Regions from separate parts of the Homo sapiens genome. Here all the other regions are linked to region 1. The links come from fine-mapping of genetic effects on gene expression. A gene starts in region 1. Each other region holds a variant in brackets. All regions are shown on one strand. Distances are from middle to middle. Region 1 holds the start of MIPEP (mitochondrial intermediate peptidase). Region 2 overlaps MIPEP (mitochondrial intermediate peptidase). Region 3 overlaps MIPEP (mitochondrial intermediate peptidase).

Evidence for each region. PIP is the estimated chance that this variant, and not a neighbour inherited with it, causes the effect.
Region 2: its variant is the best candidate, but not a certain one, in a credible set for the expression of MIPEP in stomach (GTEx, PIP 0.67).
Region 3: its variant is the best candidate, but not a certain one, in a credible set for the expression of MIPEP in pancreas (GTEx, PIP 0.58).

Annotation. Positions count from the first base shown.
Region 1 is chr13:23,886,072-23,892,468 of GRCh38, forward strand. MIPEP (mitochondrial intermediate peptidase) reads right to left here and starts at 3,329. Exons shown (of 19, transcript NM_005932.4): 1 at 3,061-3,329; 2 at 262-435. The coding sequence starts at 3,249. C1QTNF9B (C1q and TNF related 9B) reads right to left here. Exons shown (of 5, transcript NM_001007537.3): 5 at 5,028-5,990. The coding sequence ends at 5,218. PCOTH (prostate and testis expressed opposite C1QTNF9B and MIPEP) reads left to right here and starts at 2,797. Exons shown (of 4, transcript NR_172510.1): 1 at 2,797-2,940; 2 at 3,929-3,971; 3 at 5,314-5,460; 4 at 5,542-6,032. RefSeq lists enhancers at 3,109-3,609, 3,669-3,728.
Region 2 is chr13:23,859,315-23,865,468 of GRCh38, forward strand. MIPEP (mitochondrial intermediate peptidase) reads right to left here. Exons shown (of 19, transcript NM_005932.4): 8 at 4,827-4,875; 9 at 2,988-3,048. Among named protein-coding and RNA genes, the nearest start is that of PCOTH, 26 kb to the right of the region's middle. The variant A/T (reference allele first, on the strand shown) is at 3,309.
Region 3 is chr13:23,800,030-23,806,426 of GRCh38, forward strand. It overlaps MIPEP (mitochondrial intermediate peptidase), which reads right to left. Exons shown (of 19, transcript NM_005932.4): 16 at 5,921-6,040. Among named protein-coding and RNA genes, the nearest start is that of PCOTH, 86 kb to the right of the region's middle. The variant T/C (reference allele first, on the strand shown) is at 3,017.

The sequences.
Region 1 (6,397 bases):
TATTCATTCATTATATATTACATGTATATTTTATTAAACATACGTATTAAAGTACAAGTTCTAAATATCACCTTTTCCTATAATATTTTCCCATTCCTAATGACATATTTCATCATAAAAAATTATACCCAATGGATCTCAGTTTCAGACATTTTTAACTTTATAATCTAATATTAATAGTAAACAACAAAGGATAAATTTCACTTAAATTTTAACAAGTTGAAAGAGAGGTAGCTTCAAGTCTGAGGTAAAGCACCTTACCAAGTCGGCCACTCTGCATAAGGAATCCGAGAGCTCATCGAAGATCAGCACGGTCTGGGGCCCAGGTGGGGTGGAACATGCACGGTCCACAAGCAATTCTGTCTTTCTCAAGGCTTTTTCTTGTGCAATATGAAATCCTTCTGGGGCACTCAGCTCAGGAACTCCAAAAAGACCCTTAGAACCAAAGAATACGTCTGATTTATAACCAAAATTCAAAATTGTGCTTTTTTTATATTTACTAAAATTACTTTTATCACAAAGGAGATCTTGACTTTCATTGGTGTATCATGTTATACCTGTGATCACAGATACCACTATCATACTCCCCATATCACTCCACATAAATTACACTAAAAATGTTTTCAGAACATAATTTTTCTTCAATTTTTAATTATTTTCCGGAAAAAACAACAACAACAATGGTATGGGTTCAAAATCCAGCTGTCACTTCTACAGAACCTAAGAGTGGCCGCAAAGATTAAATGAGATCATATATGTAAATATATATATATATATACATAAAGCAGTGTTTGGCACAGAGCATTTATAGATGTTAGCCATAATTATTATTAGCTTATAACCCTGGTCATGTTATTTCTCCTCCTAGGAGAAATATTTTTTTCATCATGTACAATGGGAATGACGATACATACCTTACAGCATGGATACAGGTAATAAGTATATGTAAAGTACTAACAGCAGCAGCTGACAAGGTGAGATCTCAGTACATAGTACCAATTATTCTATAACTATCAAATAGGGAGGATGAGTTGACTATGAAGCAATAGATATTTTAGAAAAATGTAATGAACATATTAAAATCATAGGCTGAAACTGGGAGCAAATTTTATACGTTACAAAGACATTTCAATATCTTGATAAAAACAAAAATCACTGATCTAATGGTAATGACCATTCTCTTGTTACCTATTCAATCACACTTGTTAGCACACTCAGGAAGGCAGGGGGAAAAAGCATTTAATATGCACCTACTGCATACCATGAAGTGTGCCTGCTACTTTACATAGGTTCTCATTTAAATCACACAATCCTACAGAACAGAGTATCATTCTTTTACAGATCAGGCCACATGCTTTAAGACGTTAGAAAAAACTTGTTTGAGGTCACAAATTAATATTGGGAAAGACAGAACTCGAACCCGCTCTGTACATCTGTAAAGCCCACACTTTTCCATACTTCTCTATTACAATTTATCTGTTTGAAAGTCTTCTCTCCTGAAAAGGTGAGCTTCCAGACCCAAGAGCCCTGCCCTTCATTTCTTTAACCAGCTATCCAATAGAATGTCTAACACATGGGGGAACTCAATGAAAGAAACAAGTGACCGGAGCAGATGCTAGGCTTTGTTAATTCACTTTGTAGGTGCTTAACGCATAGATTTTCAGAAATACGAACAGGTAAACCTTCAGGCCTGACAAGCCCTACTGTTTCTACAAGAAGGGATGGATGAAGTTAAGCTAGTAATCTCTCTTCAAAATATATTACAAGATAAAAAATAAAATAAAAGAAAGTCAGTGGGAGACAAAGGAAAATCAGGACCAAAAACAAATGTCATCTTTATACTGATTTAATTTGATTCAAGCACAGACTACTTCCACTTCCCAGTACAACCTGCCCATATTGCTCTCGGGAATTCTAACTATCGGATTACCAGTGACCATAATGCTAAAAAACTGAATAAGGCTTTTTTTTTTTCAAGGCAAAAATCAATTCTAAAATTTGAAAATCTGCTATCAGTGCCGAATATCATGATACAAAAAGGGAAAAATAAAAGCTAAAATTAGTTATATCTCATCCACCCAAAATCAGGCTTCCCCTCACGTCTTTCTGCTCAGCGCCTACAAGTAGGTCTCTTCACACCAACTATGTTAATACCAACACTACATACCCTTAAGGAAGGTGGTGTAGCAAATTTCACACAAAATAATTTTTAAATAGACAAAACTGATAATGGAGATAAAACAAGAATCACACACTTTAGCTCAGTGCAACAATACCCTAGACTTGTCTTTATAAGGCAATACAGTATAACGAAATTTTAAAAGGCAAAAATAAAAGTAATCCTTAACCTAAAACGGACAAAATGTACAAACTCCAAGTAGAACAGGCATCAGGTAAGTCCTTTCCAACCTTGCCTTCCTCTCACCTTTCACTAGACAACGCAGGCTAGTGACTTCCTGGGGTAAGAAATCAAAGTGACCAATTCCATGGCACTATGGGAAGTGAGACTCGTCTCAACAGAGTTTTGTGTTTTAAAACAAGAAAGCCCAAAGCTTTGAAATAAATTAATTAATAGATGATGGAATTTCAGGTATTAATGAAATTACCATTACTCGACTGCAGGCAGCCGTGTCCTTGCAAAAAGACCATGTGATGCCGCCTGTGAACGCACAGGGATAGGCCTCTTAAGGCAGGACTGTAGCGCTGGAGCTAAAGGGCTTTAGCAGGGGTGCGCCTGAGTGTATGCAGAGGGCGGGTCCTGGCAGGACGAATTCACCGCCACTGCCAGAACGAACTATTCAGATTCACGTGGAGCAAGGGGCTCATGCAGAAGCAGTTCCCGGACCCGACACTCTGGGTAGGAGACCACTAAACCCGGCCCCTCAAAGCAGAGGTGACCTTGCCCTCATCGAGAGCGCACACAAGACGCCACTGTAAAAGGTGGGTTCGCTGCTCGCCTCCTCCCAGGCCCAAACAATCTCGCCCTGATTGTTGCTGGCCGCGCGGAGCAGGGGTCGGCTTAGCTCGGGGACTGAGGGGAGCTCCTCCTGCGCCGCTCACCCGGCGCTCGCCGAACAGGTCCAAGCGGCTGCCCTGGGGCTTGACATTGAAGGCGGCGCCCACGGGAGACCAGCTGGTGCTGACCCTTCGGGCCCGGATCCCGGCTTCGAGGCTTCCCCGGCCCGCCCGGCGGGGCGGCAGAGCTGCTGCTCTGGCTCCCAAGCCGCCCAGCCTTCCGACGCACAGCATTCTAGCACCAGAGCAGTCCCTTCCTCCAACGCAGATCCCTGCCCTGCTGCTTTCGCTGGGAGCGCGCGCTCCGCGTTTCCAAGGCAGCAGCCCACGCCGCCCCACGTGACGGCCCCGCTTCCGGGTCTGGGCGCGGCCTCAGGACGTGGGCACGTTGTCGTCCAGAGAGCAAGAGCGTCGCTCCCCCTCGCCTTCTCGGCCGCCCTCCCGGTTTACCGCCCCCTGTGTCCAGAGTAAGAAAAGGCTAGGGTTGCGCTTCCCTCCCAAGTTGACTAGGGGTGGGCGCGAGTAAAATCATGACATATTCGAATTCCAGTGGACATTAGATATTCTTTGAGAGACGGCAGGTACTTGAGTAAACAAGAAATGCCCACCATAGGCCTGAAGGAGAAGTTTCCCTTTTAACCTACTCTCTTGGTAAATTTATCCTGCACTTCTCTGTTTGGTGTCTCTGTCCGGTAACTTTTTACTCTTGCATAGCTCAGTTAAAAATTTTAGATGGGAAATAGTGAAAGAAGTCTAATGGGATTTTCCCTCCAGGGTTTCAGAATTGCCTGGGACCCGTGAACCCTTTTTTCCTTCCCCTTTCTCTCTTTTGGAATGGATTGTCTACCCTATGCCTGTCTCCCCCTCCAACCCCCGGTCTTTTAGAAGTGGATTAACTCGTCTCGCTTCACAGGATCACAGATGGAGAGACATTTTGCCACACGATGAATCACACAGTAAGTCTCCTCTGTAGCTTATTTAAATGATGTAGATGGTGAGAGGAGTTGATGCGGAAAGTGTTAAGACTTTTGGTAATGTTGACATGGTGCGAAAATGTATTTTGCACATGAGAAGGAAATCAATTTTGGGAACCAGAGGGCAGATTGGGTTGAACTGTGTCTCCCAAAATAGATGCTGAAGTCCTAACCCTCGGTGCCTGTACATGTGACCTTATTTGAAAATATGGAGTTTGCAATTATGATTAAGATGGGTCATACTAGATTAGGGAAGCTGTTCTTGTAAGAAGAGGAAAATTTGGCTGATACAGGAGGAGGACAGCCACCTGAAGATGGAGGCGGGGACTGGAGTGATGCTGCCACCAGCTGCCAGAAGCTGGAAGCAGCAAGGCTGCATCCTCCTGTATCCCCTTTGGAGGGAGGATGGCCCTGCTGCTACGGTGATCTCAAACTTCCAGCCTACAGAACTGTGAGAAAGTCCGTTTCTGTTGTTTAAAGACTCCCAGTTTGTGTACTTTATTAGGGCGATCCTAGAAAACAAGTAGAGATTCATGTCTGGCAAATAATGATCAAACAATGATTTGTTGGATAGAATGGTGATTAAAACCTAGGTTAGAAAATGAGCAAAATGGGAGGGAAAGCACCAGGACAAATAGCTAATGCATGCAGGGCTTAATACCTGCATAGGTGATGGGTTGACAGATGCAGCAAACCACCACAGCACATTTTTATGTAACAAACCTGCACGTTCTGCATATGTATTCCAGAACTTAAAAATACATTTTTTAAAAAAAGACAAAATGAGCAGTGTCTACAGCTTTCTGGAGTGTGACAGCATCACCAGCTTAAAGCTGTTACTAGTACTAAATGGAATAAACATTTCCCTCTAATTTCCCCTTAATGTCCTCAGAAACACAGATGAGGGATACATCTTCATATGACTCCTCAGAGCACTAAAATGATATCAAAACACTCTTCCCACAAGAAATGCACAGACAAAGGATTCTTCAGATAATAGGAATAAGAAATGTGAAATAAATTAGAATAAACCATGCAGCTATTTTAAATATTTACTCCTGGAAAAATAGTAAGTTACATAGAATCAGTTTTGGGAATAACTTTTCCGTTTTCACCTTTTTATGATTATTGTAATAATTGGAGGAATTAATAAAGTAAAACCATCTGAATAAGTTCATCCCAAGCTGATTCTGATGGATGGTCTGGCAGATTTATAAACTCTCCTCTGTCACTGGCTGCTGAACAGAAGGAACCCTGTGAAAGTTGTGTCATCGTCCTCATCAGCAAACAAGCCATTGAACCTCTCTCCTCCTGTCACCTGCAGCCACATCTCATCCCCGAGCTTCAGCTGCAGGACAATGCTGCCAGAGGCCTGGTCCTCAGAGCTCACGTAAGCATCTCTGGTGTGCAGTATTTTTACTCCGTTTTTGACCAAAGACACCTGAACATTCCTGGAGAAAACAGTGATGTGGTAGGTGAAGTAATAGACCCCAGCAATGTGGCACGTGAATTTCCCCACTGCTGTATCATAATGGTTGAATTCATTATACAGGATCTTATCAAATTTAATGGGCACATCTGAAGAAGGAAACTTGCTCAGCACCGTGAGCCCCACAGTGAAAGCACTTTTTGGCAAGACTAGAGTCTCACCGATTTTCCCTTTCTCTCCTCGATCTCCTTTCCAGCCTCTTATTCCCCGGACTCCTGGCTCACCCTGGGGCCCCGTGGGTCCAGCTTCTCCCTTGGGACCAGGCTTTCCAATAGGGCCCATGGGGCCCGGTAAACCAGTTGGGCCCAAAGGCCCAATGTTGCCCCTTGGCCCCTCAGGACCAGTGGGACCCACGTCACCCTTATTCCCCTTCTGCCCCTGAGGCCCAGTCTCTCCTCGGAGGCCTTTCTCTCCCATGGGCCCTGCAAGCCCCTTGGGGCCATGTTTTCCTGGGGATCCTCTTGAGCCTTGATCACCTTTGATGCCTTTTGCTTCAACTTTTCCATCTGCTCCTAAATAGAGAAAGAGCAAATAAAGAGATAGTTTGTGAAAGATTCCCTTGTGAACAACTTTGGTTTTTCTATAATTGAGCTCACAAATGAAACAAAGTAGTACACAGGTTCAGTATATGCCCAGAGTTTAAAATTCAATTACTCCATCTGGGTGCGGTGGCTCACACCTGTAATCCTAGCACCTTGGGAGACCGCGGCAGGAGGACTGCCTGAGGCCAAGAGTTCAAGACCATCCCGGCCAACATAGCAATTCCCTGACTCTAAAAAAATAAAAATAATAAAAAAATAAGAAAATAAAATTCAATTACTCCAGCCCAGCTCAGTGGCTTATGCCTGTAATCCTAGCACTTTGGGAGGCCAAGAGAGGCAGACTACTTGAGTCCAGGAATTCAAGATCAGGCTAGGCA
Region 2 (6,154 bases), 27 kb before region 1:
CTAAGCAAGAAGCTTTGGGTAGATATCAAAAATGAAAGCAGCAATTTAAAATGTAACCAAGGCAGAATTAACTCTAATCTTGGCAAAGAAAATATGTCATAAAGAAGTACTATAGTACTAGTTGCTTTTGATGATTGGCACATAATACTGAAAGAAGGGAAAGCTTGAATACTTGAATGACTGTCCTTCCTTCTAGGTGTCCAGGTGGACAAAAGAGTGGTTAAGAGACCAGGCTGTGAAGACAGACTGCCTGGGCTCAAGTTTCCAATCCATACCAGACTATAAACTGCATGATGACAGGGACTTTGTTTGCATCCTTCCCTATTACATTCCTGTCCCCTGAACAGTACCTGGCCCAGGGTAGTCACTCAGTAAATATTTGTTGAAAGAATCAACAGTACCTCCCAAAGAAGACTGCTGAATGTACTTAAACTATTAAGTAGAATATCTGGCATTGAGTAAGGGCTCAACAAATGTTGGCTACTCTCCTTATTACCATTATCCTTTAACATTTCAGTTTAGGCATAATCTCCTCCAATAACAAGGTGTTATTTCCCATATTCCATGGTAATACTTATATCATGGGATGCATGACAACCTAAGATACTTGTAGGCTTATTTTCTTTCTCCTCATGAGTGCCTGAAGGGCAGGGACTGCGTCCATGGAACCCTAGCCCCACAGTGTTCTGGTCCTGGCACACATTTTCTCTAACAGATGATTATTTGCTATCTGCTAGATGCAGACAGAGTGCAGGCTGTAATCAGACAAAAACAAGAGGATGATAGCCTAGGCAGTAGAAGGGCAAGTGACTCAACAATCAGAGGACAGTATGTCATGTCTACATTGTGCCATGTAAAACACAGCCCACAAGAAGAGTATTTAAATCACAGCGGAAGGTTAGGAAATGTTCTCAAGAAGGCAAAGCCTGAATTGAGTTTTATGATAGAAGCAGTTAATCCAGATGAGAAAGGGAGAAAGGCATTCCTGTAGGTGGTGTTTGTAAATGACTGGAAGCTGCTCACCATGCCATATTTATGTGGCCGGCACGTAAATATTAATTCAAATTAAAGAATCAAAGAAAGCAAAGCAAGGAAAGAAAGCAAAACTAAGTGAATAGAGATCACATGAGCATCACACAGGTATTAGGAGAGAGCAAAGAACACAGCCTCGGCTTGGAGGGGCAGCAGAAGATGAAGCTAGAGAAGGAGGCAAGGGCCAAATCATGAGGGCTTGGCGGGAGCAGCAGGGTAGTAGGAAGGGAAACTGGAGAATAACCAGGAGCTACTGAATAATTTTAAACAACAGAGTGACAAGATCAGATCTGCTTTTTAGACAAATCCCTCTGGTGGCAATTCATTCATTCATTATTCATTCATAGTTCAAATAAGTGTTGACAACCAATTCTATGCCTAACACTGGGCTAAATACATGGCTAAACTGTCTGAATCCAAGACGGCTTCGAGTGGAGCAAAAACAAAAGGCTAGAAACCAGTTAGGCAATCCCAGTTACCATCTGGGTGAGAATAATGATTGGGATCATAGCCCAGGCTATGGCAATGGGCACAGGAGAAGACACAAGAGTTCACAGGGAGGGAGAATCTGCAGGACCTAACAAATGATTATGGGGGAGGGGAGTGTGCAGTGCCTGGGGTGCTTGTTGAAACACAGATTGTGGAGCTCACCCCAGTTTTTGATTCAGTGGGTCTGAGGTGGGGCTCAAGAATTTGCATTTCTAACAGGCTCCCATGTGATGCTACTGCTTCTGGTCCAGGAACCACACTTTGAGAACCACTGGTCTGGATTAAGTATAGGTCCTGACCAGAGCAGCAGGGTGAATGGTGGCACCATTCACCAAAGCAGGGACTTCATGAGGAGATTGGGCATTTCACAAATATCTGCAGAATAATTGTATCCATAAGCTATATACAAATATCTACAGATAACAGTTTAAAGTCATATTCACTTTTACTGAATTAGCTTTTGGCAACACATTTTGTTTTTTATTTTTCTGTTTCTATAGTCACCAAACTAAATTCTTACCTATTATCTGGTTTCCCAAATAAGCCTACCTACCAGGTCAAGGTGTGCAGATGACTGTGCAGATGACTAACAGTAGTTACTTTGCTAGACACAGCTCCTTCCATAAATTAACAGACTGACATGCTACTCTACACATCGCTGAGTTTAATGGGATTAATCTGTTTCCTAGTGGCTGTATCTGGGAAGCTAGTAAACAGTTTGTAAATCTGCAAGGCCCATTTCCCTAAATCTTCCTTATGACTATGGCTCTGGCAGCAGCAACTAAGTCAAGAACTAATAACAGCATTTGGAAAAGAATGGTGTAGACAACCCCGGCAATCCTGTAGTGCCCTAGAACCAAATGGGAATGAGTCCTAATATCTGGACTCTCGACACTTTTCAGGGCACTCCCCCAATCACCTGGGCAGCATTCTGGCCATAACAATACTTGTCTATACTCTTGGATCACATAAGGAAGATCATATAATCATATGATTGAAAACAACACTTAAGTGTTTTTAGAATGTGGTATACTTTGTTAGTCAAATACTCAATTGGGCACCATAAATTAGCTAACAAATAAGCAAATGAACTGCAACATTAACACTGATGGTTAAAATTGCCACCTGCCAGATGAAGCCTCCACTGAGTCTCCTTAAAGTCTGCTTCAAACTGAGAAGCCAACATTCCACAGAATGAAAGCAGTCTTTGCATGAATATATACACATTGTGTTAGTGTATATACATAAAATATGTCGACTCCTCAACAAAAATGCTGTATGTACAGGCAACATCAGTTTGGGACATAAGAATCAAATATTTCAACATCTTTATTCACCAAAACCGAGGATCAGAAACAAGACTAAATGGACCTGTAGCCTATCACAAGAAAGTTCCTGAATCAAAAGATATTGATTTCAGTTGACAGACTGTCTATATTATAATAAAAATATTCCAACATACTTACGGAATTTTGAGGATTCAGTTTCATTTTCATCCCTCGTATCATCTCAAAATCTTTCAGAGTTCTATAAAACAGGTTTATCATTACTTGTTAGGACAAAATTTTAACAATTACATTATGAAAGGACTAGTTTGCTTATGTTACATTCCAATATTCATAAGATTAGATACAATTAGTAGTGCACACATAAATCACTATTAATCCAAATTTTACCTAAGTGTCATGAGAAATAACAATATATAAAGCAGCATATTACTGCGATTTCTACCTTAAAAAGCATCATGGTGGATAAATGTCTCAAGAGTACTAAAGCTTGGAAAAACT[A/T]GCAATGTCATTACAAATATGCAAAGCATTAATCACTAACTTTAAATCACTACTTTTTGCTATACCTTTAAAAGAGACTTAACAAATTAACTCCTAGAAAGGAATTTTATCATTGGCTACATTTAAGATTTCTAGTCATTTTTCCCCTTTGGAAAAACTCTAGCTGGTCAATAATTAAATAGGTATTTAATATTTGTAGAATATGACATGTATATTGGAATTAATTCCTATATATACCTGTAAAATGATGAAGCTATGCTTGCTCTAAAATCTATAGCTATGTAGAGAAAGACTACTAACACTTAACTAAGTAAAGCAGGATAAATCCTCAATAAGTGCATAACTAACCCTCTTTCTTTATTGTATCAAAGACACAGTGGTTCACCAGGATCATTAAAAGAAAATTTTAGAATTTATAAACATAATCCAAACTAGAGAAGAATGAGTTCTAAGGCATGAGTTTATAGTCCAAAACAGAAATGTGAGCCAAGATCCAATGTGTTGGTGTAGCCACAACAGGCAAACAAAATTTTAGACAGCATTACAAGAGAAAAAGAGAAAACATCATCCTTTTTTACAAACGGTGACTGCTTCTTCCTAGAATCCTTAGTACCTAAAGGTGTGCTGCCTCTCAACTAAGGCCTAGAAGAGGGCCAGTGAAGGGCAAGTGTATGATCGAAGGCACTGAGCAGGGGAGGGGCAGGGGAGGCAGGAATACAGGTTGAGCCTCCCTAATCTGAAAATCTGAAACTTTCTCAGCACTGACATGATGGTACAAGTGGAAAATTCCACATGTGATGTCATGTGATAGGTTGCAGCCAAAACTTTGTTTCAGGCACAAAATTATTAAAAACACTGTATAAAATTATCTTCAGGCTATGTGTATAAGGTGTATATGAAACATAAATGAATTTCGTGTTTAGACTTGGGTCCCATCCCCAAGATATCTCATTATGTATATGCAAATATTCCAAATTCCCCCCAAAAAATGAAATCCAAAACATGTGTGGTCCCAAGCATTTCAGATAAGGGACACTCAACTTGTTATAACAAACGGACACACCAAAGGCAGTAGAACACTTCAGCTTGAAATTACAAATGTTGAGATAGAACATCCTTAAAATACTACACAAAATTAAAAAGACACCACATCCATGAGCCTCCTGTATTTAGGCCAAAAGAAGAGAAATACTACTTTATGAACTTGTCATAAAATTCATGGTACAAGTTAAAATAAATAGTTTCAAAAACATTTTGGTAAAGATTTTTAAAGTGCAAATGAAAGATGAATTTCTAAAAACAATTGTTTAATGAAAGGGGACAGCTTATGTTTTCAAGAATGGCACATAAGGAAGACAACTATGGCCTTTTAAAGTATGTCTCATAGTGAGACAGGTCTGGTCCAATATGCCAAAACTTATATTCTAGGTCACTTCCTAATTTTTTATAAATCAAGTCTTCTTTAAAAAGACTAAATAACATATAACCAAAAAACTAAATAGTAGAATAAAAACTAACCTTTCAGAAAGTTTGTCAGATAGTTTTTCAAGGAACTGCATGACAGTCTCTAAAACGAAATCCAAAAGAAAATATCTTCAATTATGTGAAATAAAATGAACATATCTGTTAAAATTATTATGTGATGATCATAATCTATATCCCACAATTCCCTTAAAGTGATGATTTTCAAAGGGAAGTAGAGCTACCAACATATACCAAACATATAGTAAATGCTTCTAGGTGATGACGATCTTTTAATCAGAAAAAAATTAAATTGGCATACTAATAATCCACAGCGTCAGATTCTATCCCAAAATTAAAAGAGTTAATGGGACCAGGTGGCTCATGCCTGTAATCCTAGTACTTTGGGAGGCTGAGGGCAGGGGGTGGATCACCTGAGGTCAGGAGTTCAAGACCAGCAAGGCCAACAGGCTGAAACCCCGTCTCTACCAAAAATACAAAAATTAGCCAGGCGTGGTGGTGCATGCCTATAGTCCCAGCTACTTGGGAGGCTAAGGCAGGAGAATAGCTTGAACCCAGGAGGTAGAGACTATAGTGAGCCCAGACTGTGCCACTGTACTCCAGCCTGGGCAAGAAAGTGAGACTCCATCTCAAAAAAAAAAAAAAAAAGAGTTAATGGGAGGCTAAAGAAAAAAGTACAAAATTTCAAGGTGTTTCTATCTATTCATATGTGTAAGAAAAAAAAGTTCTGAGACATGTCTGACGTTTTCAGAGTTTTAAAGAGATATCTAGACTGCTTTGTTCATAAAAATAGGTGCAGTGTAGAAGTATAATTCCCTGAAATAAATTTTTTAAGATCAATGTTTTTCTTGATAACAATTTTATTGTTATATACAACTGTAGAATAATCTATTCAGGATAAATATGAAAAAAATAGCAAAATAAGAAAAATAAATATTAACTTCTGATAGAATTTTTAAAGTATTTTTATTAAAATACTTCTGCCATAGTTGTCATAATTTACAAACCCATAAAGGCAGTGCAGTAGAATTATCACCGTTTCCCACAAGAGGAAATGTTTTGCAAGTATTTCTGAATGTAGCACTTTTTATCACTGACTTATGTGTACAGAGCTTTCATATGTATTTTAGTTCACCACAAACACTATGTTTGTATTTTCCAGATAATCTTTTATACAGTTTTAAGTTTCCTGCCCTCTCTTCAATTTAAGTTATCTCCTTTTGAGTGAAATAAAAGACTAAGGAAATAAATAATGGTGGTTAACCTAAACCCAAACCATGAGGTTTCTTGCCACTGTCAATACTTAACAAGTCCTGTGTATACGAATTCTGAAAACACTGGCTCATGTGCCATATGAAACAACA
Region 3 (6,397 bases), 86 kb before region 1:
ATTCAGAGAACACTGTCACTCTGAGAACAGCTGTGCTGGAGACACAGCCTCACCACCCAAACCCACAAGCCTACCAAATTAGGTCAAAACACTAAAATACAACTGCTTAACAGATCTTCAAAACCTAGAGTCAGCTGTTCATGTTTTGTACTTGAAAAATACACATTAGAACAGAGTCAGAGGATCAAAGGCTAGAAGTTTCATCCCAGAGCTTTCTGGACACGACTGTATCTCAACTGTGTCAGAGAGGAGGGTGAAAATGTAAAATTACAAACCTAGAATGCTACAAAAATAAAAATATTACATTTTCTATTTCCTGAATTAAAAATAGGAGAGATACACAATCGCTTAGGGAAAATATTCTGAGAAGAGACAGTCATGAATATAAAAAACACAACAACACAACACTGTTCTCTAAATGGAAGAGAAGTGGTAACAGCAGAAGGTGAGCCTGTTGGTATATGTTGTACTATTGCCCTCTATTCACAAATGAGTAGAAAATTTTGGATTTCCAGCATCAAACTACTGTTAGATGGAATAGCAAGTAAGTACAAATTAGCCTATATTTTATACAGAGTGACTCAGCATGCACACAAATATCAATAAATTGCCGACACTAGAAGGCTATTTATTGACTTGTAAAGAAAGCATCATTATTTAATATGGAATATCTGTGGAGCTGCCCCTATTAAATAGTTACAGTCATGTAAATGCAATTTTCCAAAGTATGACCTACATAAAGCTAGTGCCTAGAAATTATCCATGAAGACTTCCAGGGTTAATACATTTGAGGATAGAGACTCATAATGTTTGTTAGCATATTACAGACTCCAAGCGGTTCCTCAGTAGAGAAGCCAGCTCAATGTTGTTTAAACCAGTATTGCTCAAAGATAACTAGTGCGACACTTTATTCCCAAGATGAGTTATTAATGCACTTAAAGAATTGCTAATATAGACATATGCAAAATCACTGTCTAAAAGTTTGTACCAGATTATGTACCTAAATTTGTATCAACTCCATAAGCATTATAAAGACTCTTCGTTGCTTATATTTTCCTTTTCTCATTGTTTAATTTGGGGGAATAAAAGGATTCATTTCAGAGAAACAATTTCTGGAGACAAGTTTACAGGGGGAACACTGTCACTCTTTGGCCCGCATGGGAAGGCGCTACAAAGTCATCTTCTATCCGATATGGAAGTTGAAAGCCTTGCAGTTGTCCCATTCCCGTGGATCTTGCTCATCATCCCAACCCATATATCCAGTCACCCCCACTGCACTGATTATGCCTTCTGCACTGTTCTCAGGTCTGTTTCAATCTTCCACTCCCCACAGTCAGTGTCCTAGTTTGAGCCACCAGCAGCTTTGCCAAGGTCCATTCTTGGCATACCCCATACCTTGTAGCCCAGATCACCTTTTAATCCTTGGAAGTGTTTTCTATCTACCAAGACTATATGTCTACTATTAGTAGAAAGAATGACAAAGTCATCAACCATGTACCCACCAATCAGTTTAAGAAAATATTTCTAAGACTCCTGTGAATCCACTCCTATGAATTCTGTGCTTATAATTCCCTCACTTTTCTTTATAGTCTAATCACATATGTATTTATCTGACAATGTACTGCTTAGTTTTGCATCACTCTGAACTTTATATAAATGTACTAGTTTGATTCATCTGGTATTCATTTATTTCACTTTACCTTATGCTTGTTAGGCTCATCAACTGGGGCCCTCAATTTCCATAGCTGAACAGTATTCCAGCTGTATGAACAAATTGTTTATCCATTTCTCTGATGACAATCACTTGGGTTCTTCCCGGAATCCTCCCCCTCACCTTTTTTTTAACTACTTACAACAAGTGCTGTTATAAACCCTCCTATTTTTTCATGCCTGGTACAGAAAAGTATACCTGGTAGAGAAAGTAAAACATTTTTTTTTCTAGGTTATATTAGGAATTGAATTGCTGGGTCATAGGGCAGTCCATATTCAGATTTCACAGATCTGTTCTGCAAAGTGGTTATACCAATTTGCTCTCCTACCTGCAGTGTATAAGAGTTCCTGTGACTCCACATCCTTGCCAACATCTGATACTGTCAATTGTTTTATTTTTTGCCAAACCAGTGATAGTAAAATATTTTAGGAGTATTGTAATGTGGTTTTAATGTGCATTCCCTGATTAATATTTAAGTTATTTTACGTCATTTTTTGCATATCCATGTCTTTTGTTTATTCAAAGTAATTTAAAAATATAACCTTTTCCAATGGCCGGGCATGGTGGCTCACACCTGTAATCCTAGCACTTTGGGAGGTGGAAGCAGGCAGATCATTTGAGGTCAGGAGTTCAAGACCAGCCTGGCCAACATGGTGAAACCCTGTCTCCACTAAAAAATTAGGCAGGTATGGTGGCAGGTGCCTGTAATCCCAGCTACTCAGGAGGCTGAGGTGAGAGAATCGCTTGAACCCAGGAGGCAAAGGTTGCAGTGAGCCGAGACTGCACCACTGCACTCCAGCCTGAGCAATAGAGTGAGACTCCATCTGAAGGCAGGGGGGGAAGTCAGTTTTATGCTATGTGGTATTTAACTTTAAATATCATTGAATTTGTCAGTCTTTTGCTTTATGTTTAATGGCTTTCCATTGTATCTAGAAGATCCCCAACTTAAAGATTTTTTAACTTTAAGATTTTTCAACTCCACAGTGGTGTGAAAGCAATATGCATTCAATAGAAACTGTACTTTGGGTGCCTGACAACCATTTTGTTTTTCACTTTCAGTGCAGTATTCAATAAATTACATGAGATATTCAACACTTTATTATGAAATAGACTTTGTGTTAGATGAGTTTGCCCAACTGTAGGCTAACATAAGCATTCTGAGCACATTTAAGGTAGGCTAGGCTAAGCTATGACATTCAGCAGTGTAGGGGTATTAAATGTATTTTTGACTTATGATAGTTTCAACTTACAATGGGTTATTGGGACTTGACCGCATCATAAGTTGAGAAGCATCTGTATAAAATA[T/C]AAGATACTCAGAGTGGGTATAAAAAACACTATCATGGCCAGGCGCGGTGGCTCATGCCTGTAATCCTCAGCCTTGGGAGGCCAAGACAGGTGGATTATCTGAGGTTGGGAGTTCGAGACCAGCCTGGCCAACATGGTGAAACCCCGTCTCTACTAAAAAAACAAAAGTTAGCCAGGAGTGGTGGCGCACACCTGTAATCCCAGCTACTCAGGAGGCTGAGGAAGGAGAATTGCTTGAACCCAGGAGGCAGAGGTTGCAGTGAGCCAATACTGCGCCACTGCACTCCAGACTAGGAGTCAAAGCAAGACTCCATCTCAAAACAACAACAACAACAACAACAACAAAAACACTATCAAAAAGAAAAAATTCTTTTGTATTATCTTCTAAAATTTAAAGCTTTACTTTTCACATCTCGGTCTTTAACTCTATTTTTTGTGTGCAGTGTGATACAGGGCTGCATTTTTTTTTCCATATAGAGATCAATCACTACAACACCACTTTAAAAAATTGTTCCTTCTTCATCCAATAATCTACAGTGTCACTCAACCTATATTTGAGAGTCTATTAATTTGCTGAGTCTGCCGTTGGGCTCTTGCTCCTGTTTCACTGATATCTGTGCATCCCTACACCAGTGTTAGACTGTCTTAATTCCTACAGCTTTATTTGAATTCAAGTTGGTGGTCAAGTCCACCAACTTGATGTCGGGAATGTTATAGGCTTGATGAATGCATTGACAAACAAATGAAGAAATGCAGAAGTTTCTAAGTAGGAAGAGTAGGCTATCTGTACAAATCTAAACAAACTCTCAGACACTTTTTTTTAAAGGCAAGCCTTAAAATAATGTCTTTTTTTCTCTAAACATAGCTATGCTTCTTTTAAAGACCTCTTAAAACAATTTACACAAAGAGCAAGTGATGGCTACTGAACGTGAATTGTGGAGCTAATCCCAGTAAAGAGATACATCTTTCTATTTTCTCAAAAGGAATTAGGACAAGGCACACGGACTTAGCATCACCCTTCCTTTCAAATTAAAAGTGATTTATGGATTGTTGATTCAGAATTTGGTTGCCACTAATACTTCATATTTGTATGTTAAATGATTACAGAGAAGAAATCTGGATGGTAAGGAAGTTTTCTTTTAAAAAGAGACATAATTACTTTATTATTAGACCTACGATAAAAAAGGGCAGAAGGCAAGCAACTCAGTCAAACTGAAGTTTTGTAGCTTTGGCAAGCATCCCAGTTCTCCTAATGTTAGTCTTCCTAGGACTTTACTACTTACTGGTCATGAAGTTTAACTCATATTCACAAAGAAGAATATAAGATGAGAACAAAAACATACAAGCCCAAAAGCAGGTGAATCAGGCAATGCTCTGTGAACTGGAAAATGCTAGTAAAATCTAGGCAATTGTTATTATTTATTCCATGAATAAATAGTTAGATTATTCTTATCACTATAAATTTTCACTAACACAGATAATCAAGAGCTTGGCAGTAGAAAGTATTAGAATAGTAAATTACATGTAAGATTAAAAAATTAGTTAGTATGACTGACATTATATACCTGTAGCAGATAATTAAGGTTCTAAGCCAATCGAAAACTAATGACAAGAGGTATTATGAAGATAAAATATCCTGTTGCTTCACTTGTCTGGTAAATACGATCTCTTCCCATGCATATTTGAGCATTAGGACCTGAAGATTTAGTGGACAATTGTAGTTTATTGATTAACTTAATCTCTTAGCACAACATATTCTGCTATCCAATCTTAGAGCAAATAAAACCACTTGACATTTATTCTGCTTTTTATAGTTTACAAAACACTTTCAAGTTAGCTCTCCTTCTGTTAGACCAACTAGGCTAGAAGGACATCGACCTGAACCTACCGGTAGTTATCAAACCATTCAGTCTGGGGGGATTGCCAGAGAATGAAAGGAACCCAGAAAAACACCGAGCTGAGAGGCAGAAAGAGAGAGAAACATTTCTAACGACATTGTGGGAGACCTAAATCCAACTTACTTGAAACACCCCTATACCCCTGCACCTTTCAGTTACAAGACTCAATAAATTCCCTTTTCTGTTTAAGTCCGTGTGAACCACGTTTCTATCACTTGCAGCTGAGAAAGGCCTGGGTAACATTAAGTCAGTCACATTGCTAACTGCACCAAGAATCACACTGTTAATTGCACTAGGAGTCACGGTGCTCAACTGCTCCTTACACGAGCCTTTGAGTGATGAAAAAAGCCTGTTTGTTTTGAACCCCCATACAATCACTTAACTACCTAGATGATCTCAGACAGGACATATAATGTGTCTGTGCCTCCAAATGAGCCCCAAATACAAGGATATAATTTAATTTATAAGGTTATTTTGAGAGCTAAATTAGAGATCTTTTCCCAAAGGAATTAGATAGAGTCTGGCGCCTAGAATCCAATAAATGGTAACATTACTCCTGCTCTCTCTCCTGACATGGTACTCAACAAGATAAGATATGTAAAGCATCTATTATAATTCCTGGTACAATGTAAGATACTCAATACATGTTAATTCTCTTTGCAATGAAAATGATTCAGGACTGGTAATCACATTCATCTTACATCACTATTTTTCACATTGTAGAAAAATAACTAAAAAGAAGAATATAGACCAACTCCAATGGCCTTTTTAACCCCCACATTTCCAAAAAGGTACAAAAACACTGTTAGAGGGAGGAAAATAAGAACATATAAATGGGTAGTTGGAAATATTAAATGAACCAGGCAATTTCCAGCATTTGAGCCATGTGAAGCCTCAACATAAATGTAGGGATTTCAAGTTCTCCAAAGGGGAAGATAATCACAAGCTACAGAAGTAATAGCAGAACCACTCAATACACAAAACAGAAGCCAAATGCTGGACTCACAGTATTTGGAACATATGGTAGGCCATAGAATTTCTCTTGTGTTTCCTTGAGAATGTCTGTGGTTGAATTCCTCAGGGGATGCTTCCCATGGTAGATTTGATCCAGAGTGGCATAAAAGACCTAGATAGATAAAAACATCTACTTAGTTTTGGTCGTCCATCCTCACATCAAGATGTGGTTGACCAAAGATGCTATAAGTGCACCAGAACAACAGTTACCAATCACAGTTGAAAACAGTCACAAAAATAAACTTACATGGTTTGAAATGTATTTCATACCACATTTAAGACCATGCTAAAGATTAAAAGGAATGCTCTCAACCTTTTCATAAATAAGAATATTAAAGAATTTTGAACCATACCCATAAGATACTCTTTATGTACAATGGCAGCAAATCAAATATGTGACACAAAACTGGAATTTTGCCAAAATATATGTAGACGGAAGGCCAGGCGCGGTGGCTCACGCCTGTAATCC